Regions from separate parts of the Homo sapiens genome. Here all the other regions are reported to be linked to region 1. The links are microRNA targets in miRTarBase. Many come from high-throughput screens and were not tested one by one. Region 1 holds a microRNA gene; each other region holds the end of a gene's coding sequence.

Region 1 (3,108 bases):
GAGATGGAAACGGGGCGTTGGGCAAGGACGGTGCCGTCGTGTGGTCACTAGGTGGCGATGCGGCTCCGTGCTACCCGCCCCAGATCGCCCCGAGCCTCTGGGGTTAAAAACCAAGTCTGCAGAGCGTGGAAAAAAAACCTTTTTTCCACGAGATAACCACATCCACATTCTTCCGCCCCGGAGGAAGTCACCTGTCACAGGTGTTCAGGATGTGGCAGGCCCACGGGAGTGACTGGTCAGGCAGCGGGCCTGGCACGTCTAAAGCTTCCTAGGCTCCCACAGCACGCCGCCTGGGGCACGGCACCCAGGACGGTGGCAGAGCTGACCTGACTCGAGTGACCGGCAGCGTCTGCAGGGAGGATGGGGACGAGGAAAAGGCTCCCACTGCGCCGGGCCTCACCTTTGAGTGAGGATCCAGCCTCCCCATTCTGCTCCCTGAGGGGGCACCTGGGTCTCCTGGTGACTCTGTGGGCATGAAAGGTGCTGAGCTCACAGTGCGGGGGCTCCCATCTGGCCACCCACTGCACGGGCCGTGAGAGCAGCACCCAGGCCTCCGAGGTGTCCCTAGGGTGGCTCCGGGGCCTGGCTCTGAAAAGGATGGCCCGCTTCTGCCCAGACGCTGCCCTGGTCACGCTCACAGCAGCCCGGGTGACTCAGGGTGACACGCTCCCCCGCCCTCCACCGCAAGCAGGGCTTAGCTGGTCTAGGGAAAGAAGGTGTCTTTTCTGCCCAATTTGTAATCCCCTTACTACTGAGGTGTGTCCAAGTCCCAGCCAGAGCGACTCCTTCCTGCACCACCCCCTCCCTGCCAGGAGCCCCAGCAAGCACAAAGCTGGGGGTCACGGTGTGGGGGCTGCCAGTGGCAGCAGGTGGCTGGCGTGGGATTCCAAGCTCTGCCACCAAAGAGACTCCGGCCGCCCCAGGATGCGGCCTCGGAGCATCGTGCCAGCCTCCAGGGATCCCAGCGCCGTTTCCTCTGCACAGCTCCTGCCCACGGGCAAGCGAGTGCCACCTGCTCCTTCCACTGCAGCGTCCGGGCTCCCTTGCCGCAGAAGGCAGGAATCCAGAGGAACGGGGCCAGCTGGCAGCGTCTGGGAACCGGCATTTGTTCTGAACAGGCAGTACCCAGCTCAGAGCAGACGTGGTTCTCAGGGGCTGCTGGGCACAGGCTGGAGTTTGTCCACAGAGATGGCATTATGAGCAGGGTCGGTCTCTCAGGCTGGCCCACAAAACCCACAAAACCCACAGAACCCGCAGGCCTCTCCGCGCCTTCTCCATGGCCCTGCTCCTGAGGAAGGCCCTTGGCCACGGGGATTCCGTCCCAGACTCCGGAGGCCATCGGGGACCATGAAATCACGCTGACCTCGGGAGGCCGGAGACAAGCAGCCATGTGACCTAGGCAAGTTCATGCACTCTCTGGGCCTTACTTTCTTCATCCATTAAGTGGGTACAACTGTGTCGACACTCAGAGGTTGTTGAGAATATCAAAGGGGTCAAGACCTGTACACCCATGAAAAGCACCTGGCAGAGGTCACATGAGCCCAAAGGTCCCCTCCACCCGCGGTGGCTGCCGTCACCTCTGCCTCTTGCTTCCGGAACACCCCCTCCCTCCGGCCAGTGCCTCCCTTGCTGACAGCCTCTGCTCGGTCTCCCTTCCACATTCTTCTTCCTCTTCCTGGCCAATCCTTGTCACGTGTGCCCCAGCCCAATCCGTGGGCTCACCTGGATCCATAGGTGGCTAAAGGCCACCTATGAGCTGAGGACGCCAAAGCAACTCTCCCAGGCCAGACCTCAGCCTGGACTCAGGGCTTGGCTTAGGCCCATCAACTAGGAGGCCACACTTAACAGACTCTCCGGACCGGGCACAGTGGCTCACACCTGTGATCCCAGCCCTTTGGGCGGCCCAGGCAAGAGGATCACTTGAGCCCAGGAGTTCAAGACCAGCCCGGGCAACACAGCAAGACCCCGTCTCTACAAAAAATACAAAAAACTAGCCAGGCGGCCGGGCACAGTGGCTTACGCCTGTAATCCCACCACTTTGGGAGGCCGAGGTGGGCGGATCACCTGAGGTCAGGAGTTCGAGACCAGCCTGGCCAACATGGTGAAACCCCGTCTCTACTAAAAATACAAAAAAAAAATTAGCCGAGTATGGTGGTGGGCACCTGTAATCCCAGCTACTCTGGAGGCTGAGACAGGAGAATCGCTTGAATCCAGGAGGCAGAGGTTGCAGTGAGCTGAGATCATGCCATTGTACTCAAGCCTGGGTGACAGAGTGAGACTCTGTCTCAAAAAAAAAAAAAAAAAAAAACTAGCCGGGCATGGTCGCATGTGCCTATAGTCCCAGCTACTCGGGAGGCTGAGGTGGGAGGATCACCTGAGCCAGAGAAGGTCGAGGCTGCAGTGAGCTGTGATCATGCCACTGCACTCCGGTCTGGGAGACAGAATGAGACCATTTTTAAAAAAAAAAAGTGGGAAAGCCCAAATTTTACATGCATTTTGCGTCAAATTTCTAAAGCAGGGAGATTCTGAAAAGTCGCCCGTCTGGTTCTCAAAGCAGTCGCCCGTCCTGGTTCTCCAGGATGCCTGGGTCAGAGCATGAATAACCACCCCGCTCCCCACGCACGGAGCCTCGCAGTGGCTCGAGCTGAGAATCAAAGCGGCCGATCCAGGGCCTGGTGACTCCACCAGACAGGAAATACAGAGGCTTCTAGCAATCTGCTCTGCCATTTGAAAGTCCTGGGTTTGATCCTGCGCTTCTCAACCCAACACTAACAGGTCTGCAGTGGGAGGAGGTCGAGAGGGAGGGTGGCGCCAAGCTGGCTGCATGGCCGGGGGACTCCAGGGTGTGAGCCTCCAGCTCGGCTGCTCCCGAGCAGACCCGGCCACTTCCTGCCATGCCTTCTGCGGGAGAGGGGAGATTTACAAGGGGCGCCCTTATCTCTACTCTGCATGGCTCCAGGGCCAAGGTCAAGCACCGGTGTTTGCGAGAGACTCAGCTCCCCCTGAGCTCCCACAGCCTCATCTGGGAAATGGGAATGATCAAGGCTGCAATCGCAGCAGATTATGGCAGGGAGGATGGGCTCAGTGCATGGCTCTCAGCAAAGGCAC
Region 2 (3,108 bases), not on the chromosome of region 1:
CGGCGGGGGCGGGGGCGGGGGCGGCGGCGCGGGGGGCGGCGGCCCCAGCGCGTCCAACTCCTTGCTGTACACTGGGGACCTGGAGGCGCTGCAGAGGTTGCAGGCGGGCAACGTCGTGCTCCCGCTGGTGCACAGGGTGACCGGGACCCTGGCCGCCACCAGCACGGCCGCGCAGAGGGTCTACACCACGGGCACCATCCGCTACGCGCCCGCCGAGGTGACCCTGGCCATGCAGAGCAACCTGCTGCCCAACGCGCACGCTGTTAACTTCGTGGACGTTAACAGCCCCGGCTTTGGCCTCGACCCCAAGACGCCCATGGAGATGCTCTACCACCACGTGCACCGGCTCAACATGTCAGGACCGTTCGGCGGCGCAGTGAGCGCAGCTAGCCTGACGCAGATGCCCGCCGGCAACGTGTTCACCACGGCCGAGGGACTCTTCTCCACGCTGCCCTTCCCCGTCTACAGCAACGGCATCCACGCGGCACAGACTCTGGAGCGCAAGGAGGACTGAGGCGCCGCCCGTCCTGGGCCCGGCCAGGCCCCGCTTGGAGGAGGCATCGTCGGCATTTTCGTTTAGACCTTTAATTCTAGCACTTTGAATTCGAGCAGGTCAGCGTCTTCTCTCGCCACGACGGTCCCCATTCCACCCCCTCTTTCTTTCACCTGACTTATTCTTTCGTGTAAAGATATGTTTATTTTTTGCCTTCAGAGGGTCAGACGACCAGTTGCCTGCCGTTTTGTCTTCTTCTAAGGTGTGTGTTGGGTTGTTTTGCTTTCCTTTGCATCTTTATTAAGATGTCTTTCATGTGTATATGCCTCTGCCATAGAATACTCAGTCTTGTGGTCAAGAGAGTTCTCAAGTGACAACCATTGGGGTTTCTTCATAAAGATCTTGATATGATCAAGATGGAAAGAGACAAGCATAAACAATGTGCCCTGTTTGACTAAGTCAAATGAAATAGGGTGGTTTTTGTTTCTGTTCCTAATTCCTTTAAAAAATAGGGGGAATAGTATTTTAGAATTTTATGCAGAATTTAATTCTCTTTTTACGGTTAAGATTTTAAGATTTTCTTACTTGCACATAAAAATAATTTGGGTTCTTAAACTTAATTTCTGGCCTGTGACTAGAATGTTTAAAAAAAAAAAAGTCGGACTAAATGTTAATTACTGAAACATTAACTTAATTTCTAAAACCATGGTGCTATCATTTATTAATCTGTAATGTCTTCATACAAAATGCAGCTCCTGGGCTGGGTTTTGGGGGAAAAAAAAAAAATGTGTTCTGTCCTGGTCTGGAGTCCGTTGCTGCAGTCTCCTTGGTTAGTTAAGACAAAGCCCTCATTAACGTTTGCTGCAGGACTTAAAATTTTTTACCTCCCAACTAACAAACATAGCCTCACATTAAATTTAATGGGTCAGTAAAGCCCCTTTTAAAGGGGCTGCTGGAAAACTCAATCAAACTGATTTGAGGAGCAGTTTAGGTACATACTGCCTTTTGTTTAGCTTTTTGTTTTCCTTACTCAGTCTAACTGAGGCTAATTTTGCAACTTCAATAACACTTCGGAGTAAAAGAAGGAAAATATTTAACATGTTTTTGGTTTTTTTCATTTCTTGCTTAAAACAAAAAGGAAGGTTGTATTTGGGGGGACTGGTTTGATTTGATGGAATTTCTTTCCCTTTGGTTCTTATTTCTGGGTTGAAACCAATAAGTTTTAAAACTAAAGAATGGGTTAATAAGCTTCAGACAGATAACTGCAACTGAAAACTGCACATTAAGTAAAAAAAAAAAAAAAGAAAAAAAAAAGAAAAAGAAAAAGAAAAAAAATCCTATTTTGTCTTTGTTGCCAGAAATCAGTGTGGTGTCAAACACTCCAAATGACTGTCAAGTATAAATTCTTCTTCCACTTCATTTTTGGCAGCTGTTTGTTAAGGCATCTAATAACAGATGTGAGAACTGTAATGTGTACAATGTGTATGTGTCCTTGGCTGTCAGTCCCATTGCAGTTTCAATGTGTGTTTCTATATGCAGTATATACTAAGCTAATGTAGTTGTTTTGTCCTTTGTCTTATCTGTGCTCTATCTCTAGTCCGGAGTGGTACAGTCCCATTCCTGCAGTCCTAGTGAATCAGTGATTCTTGGGGGTTAGTGGGTTTTGTGTGGTGGCCTTCCTCTGTAATGTCACCCTATGCTGCTTCTACTGTCTGTGAATCTTCCGTTTTACCTTTTAAAATTCCTGCTGTTGCTTTGCTGGTGTATATTCTCCCTACCTCTCCTCTCTTTCCCTCCCTTTCCCATCTCCCCCTCTCCCTCCTCTTCATTCCTTCCCCATCCCCAAAATCTCTTTCATTCTCAGAGATAAAAAGACTCTTAACTAGCTCAAGGTTAATGGAGCCATTTTTCCCACAACGGAATTCTGGGTATGACTCTGTCTTCTGGAGTGCAACACAAAGCACTGAAGAATAATGCTCAGATATATTAAATAAATTGATGCCATATAGCCTCAGTTGTTAACATTCCCAGAGTCCCTTGTGCTCTACCTATAAGCAGTGGGTGCTTTTCTTTGGTTTCCTTTCAGGTTGGCTGATGGAGCAATATATAAAGCAATTACCAGTGAGACAGAAAATTCTTTCAAAGGTCAACCAACATTTTTAAGAAACAAAATGGGAGGGGATAATGGAATCTAGAATTGTCATATATATTTGTTTACTTGTGCAATGCTAATATAGTAACTCGGCTGTCCTTTGAATATCACTGTGTTGAGTAGATTCCTCTAGGACCTTTGATTTCATGAGTTGGGCCCAAACCGTGGTGGAATAATAACAAAAAGAAGTTAAATGCCACAAATTTTAATAGTGAGCTTACTTGAAGGATTTAAGTAGGTTTAGGAGGTGAAGAAGGCCGATGGAGAAATTTACAGATTAATTTTGGAAGCTCTACTCTAGCTATCGAACAATCAAAGGAATGCACCTATCAGCTACAAAGAACAGCTAGACAGCTGTTTTTTTTCTTTTATAAATGTTTCTGTGTTGTGTCAAAATGATTTCTGGTGATTTAAACTAACAGATAATCACAGCTGCTGTCTAAATTCATAGTGTTGAAAATTA
Region 3 (3,108 bases), not on the chromosome of region 1:
AGTGATGAACCCTGTCAGATCCCTATTGCCATCTCATGTCTCTGGCCTGGAAATCATCCAGTAGGTGGTGCTGAAGCTCCACACGACATACTTCTTCAGAAATCAAATGATGTCCCTTTTGAAGCCAAGAGAAATATTTAAGAATTATCAATTCTGAACAAGTTCATCAGACCAGTCTTGCTTGTCATGCCGTCTAGATGATTCCATTTTCAATACTATTACTCAAGCAGTTGTCTTGAGCCATCTGCTTATATCAGATAAAAACAAAGAAAAGTTTTAGAGGAAAAGCCAATTGGCAGTGCCGAATCTGTACAGAGAATGAGAAAATGTTCCTGAAGGTGCCTATACACATGTTTAAGAATCAGTGATTTAAACTACCCATTTGCTTTCACAAAGGAATTCTCATTTACTCAAAAGAAAATTTCCATATAGGGATTCAGAGAACATTATATCATCAGTTAGTCTTGTAGACTGATTAAGAAACTGGGTATGTTAACTATAAAGATCCAAGGTAAAATAAAAACCATTTCATCACCATAGTTTTTAATGAAGAAACTTGTTTAAAATTGTAAAGGAAAAAATGGGAATGGGACGGCAAAATCTTAGCAGCAAAGTGGTTAAACAAATTGAAAATATTAATGCACAAACATTAAAATATTAAAGCATATATGTTGCATATAAAATACAGTACAGAACCAGGAGTTGCACTATACTGATTAGTGCTTAACAGAAGAAATGATTAAATTTGTTCCTCCCAGAAGTATATACACAGTTCATTTCCACAGCATTTTCCTATATAGCCAGCAAGTTATTTTCTTCAGTTATTCACACCTTGATCAAACCTGAATTATAAACTTAGCACTTACAAATATGAAAATTCATTCACAAGGAAAAACAGTATTTCCATTTCACCAATAAAAATTTTGAAAGTTAACAGTCTATTCTAGGAAACCAAGTTTAGCTGAAAACTTCAGGGATGAAGATCATCTGTTGTAGCAGCATTCAAATATATAAACAGTAAAAATAAGACTTAAAACTGCTGCCTACAGTGTCATGTTTTGGATTTAGTTCATCCAATTGATTTTTAGTACAAAACTAGAAATACCCTCTTCTTCATAACATCTATAGTTATCAATATATTTTCTTCTTTTCAATGTGAAATAATACTTCAAGATGATCTATATACACAATGTTGTCAGTTCAAGCTGTCATATAAATATAAATGCTTTCTTAAAAAAAGTATTTTACAGACAGATAGTGTTATATACATTGTTCAGTTTGATCTGGGGCAAAAGAAAAAAGCTAACACAAGCTTAAGTGTGATATATAAAAAGAATGATACATAAATGACGTTTAAAAACCTGCATAGAAAATGAGCTTCAAATAGTAGTGTGATTTTAATTTTTATCACCTCTGAAACTTCAAGCCATTAAAAAAAAGGCACACTTCTCAACTTTATCCCTCTAAGGGAATGTTCTTAAAGAACCCTTTCCTTGGTTAGAGTTTTAATGTAACACTTAAGAAAACAACAACAACAACAACAAAACAAAAACAGACAATTTGACTTCAAGGTACTTTAAAGTTTGTTGGAACATTTACCCAACTATTTTGTAAATTAAACATCCAGTAATATAATGCTCTGCAAAAGAAATAAATTTATATGTACAAGATACTTCATTTACAATGTTGGATTAAATACTTTCCTGGGATAGTTTAGCACACATTTTAACATAAAATAATTTTGCTTTTGGCCAGTTTAAATAAAAATAAAATGTAACTGATAAAAAGTTATTGTTATGTAAATAATAAGCACTGAGGATTAAGCTGAAAAATTAGTAACACAGCTGAACATATTCTGGTTTAGCAGAATGATACGTGAAGATCTCAACATGAAGCTTTTACACTAACTATCCAGTCAAACTTTCTGCCTTGTAAAACATTTGTAAATGCAATATAACTTTTTGAAGGAGGAAACTCTGAAAGAAAACAACTTGCTGGTTGAATACCACAAAAAACAACTAAAAAACTTCACTTTTTTTCTATAATGTTTGTTTACTCAGTCTCTTTTTATATAAAAATAAGTGTTACGTTCCCATCAGAACATTAGACAATTACATCTGTGCTTTAAAAAAAAAGTTGGTCACTCAAGGCTATTAGAGTATTTTTAAGGATTTTAGATTACCAGAATGTACAGATATAACTCAATATAAATTGTAGCCAAAGAGAAATAAGGATGAAAATATCAAATCATTCGCATGGAATAAAAACATTATTAACTAGATGAGTTAAATATTCAAAATATATGGAATGTGACAGTAGATATATATATATATATATCTACTTCAGAACTAGGAAGGGGAAGAAAAGTTTAATATGTAATAATTCGTACCTTACATTTAGTTAAATATAAACATTTGTTATTTATACATAAAACTGCTTTCAAAAAACAACTAATAAATGATTTAGTTGCACTTGTTTTACTTCTTGTAATTCCCAAGTGTTAACTTTTCTTAGATTGAAATCAACTGTCCCCTAGTGCACTTTTATTTTTAGTTCGTGTCCTAATAAATTCAAACCTTTAAAAGTCCCATCACCTAATGCATAAATATACAAAAATGCCAAAAATTAATCCCTTTTAGTTGGATCATATTTTATGCTGACTTTTTATAGCCAAATAACCAGAAATGGTTTCCTTCTGCAAATACTCTACAACCTGTAACAAAACATGCCATGCACTCAAGGGAAAAGTTAGGCATGGCGTGAAACGCCAAGAACTGATGAGTTCTGCTTCCTCCATGTGTGGGCTCAATGATACCAGGCAAGATTCCATATTGCTTGCCAAAAGCTTCCACAAATCCAAGTTAGCTAATTCCTGGAAACAAAGATTTTAAGCTCATTTTGGCACTGGACCATTTCATCCAGCAGCTTTATGTTTCCCACCACAGCAACCACATGCCTCACCACAGCGATGGCACATTCTCAAAGGGACGTAGCAGCACATACATGGTACAATGAAAGACAAAGCTACCAGGGCTAACCATCGCAAGCAGAACTTGTCGTCGCTAGTGTCACACGAACAGGGATCAGAAAAATCTCCCTCTGAGTCTG
Region 4 (3,108 bases), not on the chromosome of region 1:
TAGAATGCTGACGGCTGTGAAGAAAAAGCCAATGGCATCTCTAGATGGGAAAGGTAACTTTTGACTGTCTTCTAACAGGTGGGTTGGGAGCTGCTTAAACGGTCAAGTGGGGGTCTGACAGGTTCGTTCTTTCCTTGTAGGGGATTCTTCCTGGACTTTAGCAAGGTTGTATCACCCGGACTCCACAGAGCTACAGCCTGCATCTTCATTAACTTCAGGCAGTCCAGAGCGCGCGGAAGCCCAGTACTTGCTTGTTTCCAATGGCCACCTCCCCAAAGCATGTGACGCCAGTCCCGAGTCCACGCCACTGACAGGACAGCTCCCCGGGAAACAGAGGGTGCCACTGCTGTTGGCACCAAAAAGCTAGGTTTTGTCTACCTCAGTTCTTGTCATACCAATCTCTACGGGAAAGAGAGGTAGGAGAGGCTGCGAGGAAGCTTGGGTTCAAGCGTCACTCATCTGTACATAGTTGTAACTCCCATGTGGAGTATCAGTCGCTCACAGGACTTGGATCTGAAGCACAGTAAACGCAAGAGGGGATTTGTGTACAAAAGGCAAAAAAAGTATTTGATATCATTGTACATAAGAGTTTTCAGAGATTTCATATATATCTTTTACAGAGGCTATTTTAATCTTTAGTGCATGGTTAACAGAAAAAAATTATACAATTTTGACAATATTATTTTTCGTATCAGGTTGCTGTTTAATTTTGGAGGGGGTGGGGAAATAGTTCTGGTGCCTTAACGCATGGCTGGAATTTATAGAGGCTACAACCACATTTGTTCACAGGAGTTTTTGGTGCGGGGTGGGAAGGATGGAAGGCCTTGGATTTATATTGCACTTCATAGACCCCTAGGCTGCTGTGCGGTGGGACTCCACATGCGCCGGAAGGAGCTTCAGGTGAGCACTGCTCATGTGTGGATGCCCCTGCAACAGGCTTCCCTGTCTGTAGAGCCAGGGGTGCAAGTGCCATCCACACTTGCAGTGAATGGCTTTTCCTTTTAGGTTTAAGTCCTGTCTGTCTGTAAGGCGTAGAATCTGTCCGTCTGTAAGGCGTAGAATGAGGGTTGTTAATCCATCACAAGCAAAAGGTCAGAACAGTTAAACACTGCCTTTCCTCCTCCTCTTATTTTATGATAAAAGCAAATGTGGCCTTCTCAGTATCATTCGATTGCTATTTGAGACTTTTAAATTAAGGTAAAGGCTGCTGGTGTTGGTACCTGTGGATTTTTCTATACTGATGTTTTCGTTTTGCCAATATAATGAGTATTACATTGGCCTTGGGGGACAGAAAGGAGGAAGTTCTGACTTTTCAGGGCTACCTTATTTCTACTAAGGACCCAGAGCAGGCCTGTCCATGCCATTCCTTCGCACAGATGAAACTGAGCTGGGACTGGAAAGGACAGCCCTTGACCTGGGTTCTGGGTATAATTTGCACTTTTGAGACTGGTAGCTAACCATCTTATGAGTGCCAATGTGTCATTTAGTAAAACTTAAATAGAAACAAGGTCCTTCAAATGTTCCTTTGGCCAAAAGCTGAAGGGAGTTACTGAGAAAATAGTTAACAATTACTGTCAGGTGTCATCACTGTTCAAAAGGTAAGCACATTTAGAATTTTGTTCTTGACAGTTAACTGACTAATCTTACTTCCACAAAATATGTGAATTTGCTGCTTCTGAGAGGCAATGTGAAAGAGGGAGTATTACTTTTATGTACAAAGTTATTTATTTATAGAAATTTTGGTACAGTGTACATTGAAAACCATGTAAAATATTGAAGTGTCTAACAAATGGCATTGAAGTGTCTTTAATAAAGGTTCATTTATAAATGTCAGTATAGTTGGTGGTCCTTCTTTTACAAACGCAGTCATTCTGCCTTTAATTATCTTCCCCCAAAAAAGAAAAAAAAAATAGGCGAAGCAAAATCACATACTGTTTGTTTGCTCCAGGGCAGACAACACTGCTAGATTCCTGACATTTTGTTTTGAATTTTTCTACACCTGGAGCTTGTTAGTCAAGGTCTAAAATCCCTAAGTGTGGTGACCTTTCCATTTCATCCTGCCTTTTCAAAGCTGGCCCAGGCCCTCCTTTCAGTCTGACATGAGAATGGCGAGAATGGCTCACCCACCGTGCCCTCCTGCACGAAGCCAGCTGGGCCCACCTAGTCACTTGAGTTGCAGCTGCTTTCTCTCACACACCACAGGGGGCGCTGGACACATCTCTGTAAAATAATACAATTGTGCGTTTTTATGGGTGAAATCTGAGGGTAATTAAAACCAGCAGCCTAGTTACCCAGAAAGAGTGCTTGCTATGCACCTGTAGTTCAATCTTTCTTTCTTTTTCAACAAAGCCTACCCTTACACAACAGGAATTAACTAGGGGGAGAAACACCCACATACACAACTCTTCCCCAAGTCTCCTTTTCCCAAACAAACAAACAAGCTATTCTTTTAGAATTATAACCATCTTGCCTTCTGCTGAATCCACCATCAGGTGGCAGGAAATGAAAGATCAGATACAGATCAAATGAAAGCTCTAAAAGGCCTGGCCTCAGCATTACCAAACTTATTTATTAAGAGGTTCTGAGGAAATTGTTCAGAGTACCGCCACAGACCCCGTTTTCTTCTCTTAGCTCTCTGGCATACAGGCCAATGACTTCATACCAGCCAGCCTATACCACGGATGGCACAATCTCCATGCCGGTATCTTAGCACAACTGGTCTTCAGCACTGGGGCCTATAGTTCAGACAGCTGCTCAGCGGAAGAGGGTTTGCACTGCAGGCCCCTCTCTTGACAGAAGTGGAGGTGAGGCTTGTCTCTGCTTCAAGGACTCTTTCTGCCAACTTCCAACAGCAAGCTGTGCGTTCGGTCATAAGCCCCCAGAAAGATGAAACCTCCCAGACTGATGGCTGCCATTCGAGGGAAGACACCTGCAAATAATCTAGGGGAAAAAACAGGATTTTTAATGTTGTGCGTATTTTAAAAAAAGGTTAAATTCCAATACCCACAGCTTGCTCAGCTCAATACACCATGCTCATTAGTGGCTAACTACCAAACAGCTTGTGAACGCTCCCAAATAAGGCAAGTAATAGCTGTGTCCCAACAGTAG

What was found. Region 1 holds the annotated microRNA hsa-miR-589-3p (UCAGAACAAAUGCCGGUUCCCAGA, at 1,091-1,114, opposite strand). A microRNA usually pairs through its seed, bases 2 to 8, with sites in the 3' UTR of a target mRNA and lowers its output. Matches are read on the target gene's strand: a 7mer-m8 pairs with bases 2 to 8, a 7mer-A1 pairs with bases 2 to 7 and ends in A, and an 8mer does both.
Region 2: miRTarBase lists NPAS3 as a target of hsa-miR-589-3p. Seed matches in the 3' UTR shown: 7mer-m8 at 1,282-1,288.
Region 3: the mRNA of SPRED1 is a reported target of hsa-miR-589-3p. Seed matches in the 3' UTR shown: 7mer-A1 at 2,343-2,349 and 8mer at 2,096-2,103.
Region 4: miRTarBase lists LRIG1 as a target of hsa-miR-589-3p. Seed matches in the 3' UTR shown: 7mer-A1 at 1,302-1,308.

The regions. Positions count from the first base shown.
Region 1 is chr7:5,494,744-5,497,851 of GRCh38, forward strand. MIR589 (microRNA 589) reads right to left here and starts at 1,174; the gene lies at 1,076-1,174. All of the region lies in intron 3 of FBXL18 (F-box and leucine rich repeat protein 18), which reads right to left. RefSeq lists enhancers at 318-397, 468-517.
Region 2 is chr14:33,800,596-33,803,703 of GRCh38, forward strand. It overlaps NPAS3 (neuronal PAS domain protein 3), which reads left to right. Exons shown (of 12, transcript NM_001164749.2): 12 at 1-3,108. The coding sequence ends at 514. Among named protein-coding and RNA genes, the nearest start is that of SNORA89, 93 kb to the left of the region's middle.
Region 3 is chr15:38,351,471-38,354,578 of GRCh38, reverse strand. It overlaps SPRED1 (sprouty related EVH1 domain containing 1), which reads right to left. Exons shown (of 7, transcript NM_152594.3): 7 at 1-3,108. The coding sequence ends at 2,915. Among named protein-coding and RNA genes, the nearest start is that of SPRED1, 100 kb to the right of the region's middle.
Region 4 is chr3:66,377,522-66,380,629 of GRCh38, reverse strand. LRIG1 (leucine rich repeats and immunoglobulin like domains 1) reads left to right here. Exons shown (of 19, transcript NM_015541.3): 18 at 1-53; 19 at 141-1,833. The coding sequence ends at 367. It overlaps SLC25A26 (solute carrier family 25 member 26), which reads right to left. Exons shown (of 10, transcript NM_001379210.1): 10 at 1,707-2,940. The coding sequence ends at 2,823. Among named protein-coding and RNA genes, the nearest start is that of LRIG1, 120 kb to the left of the region's middle.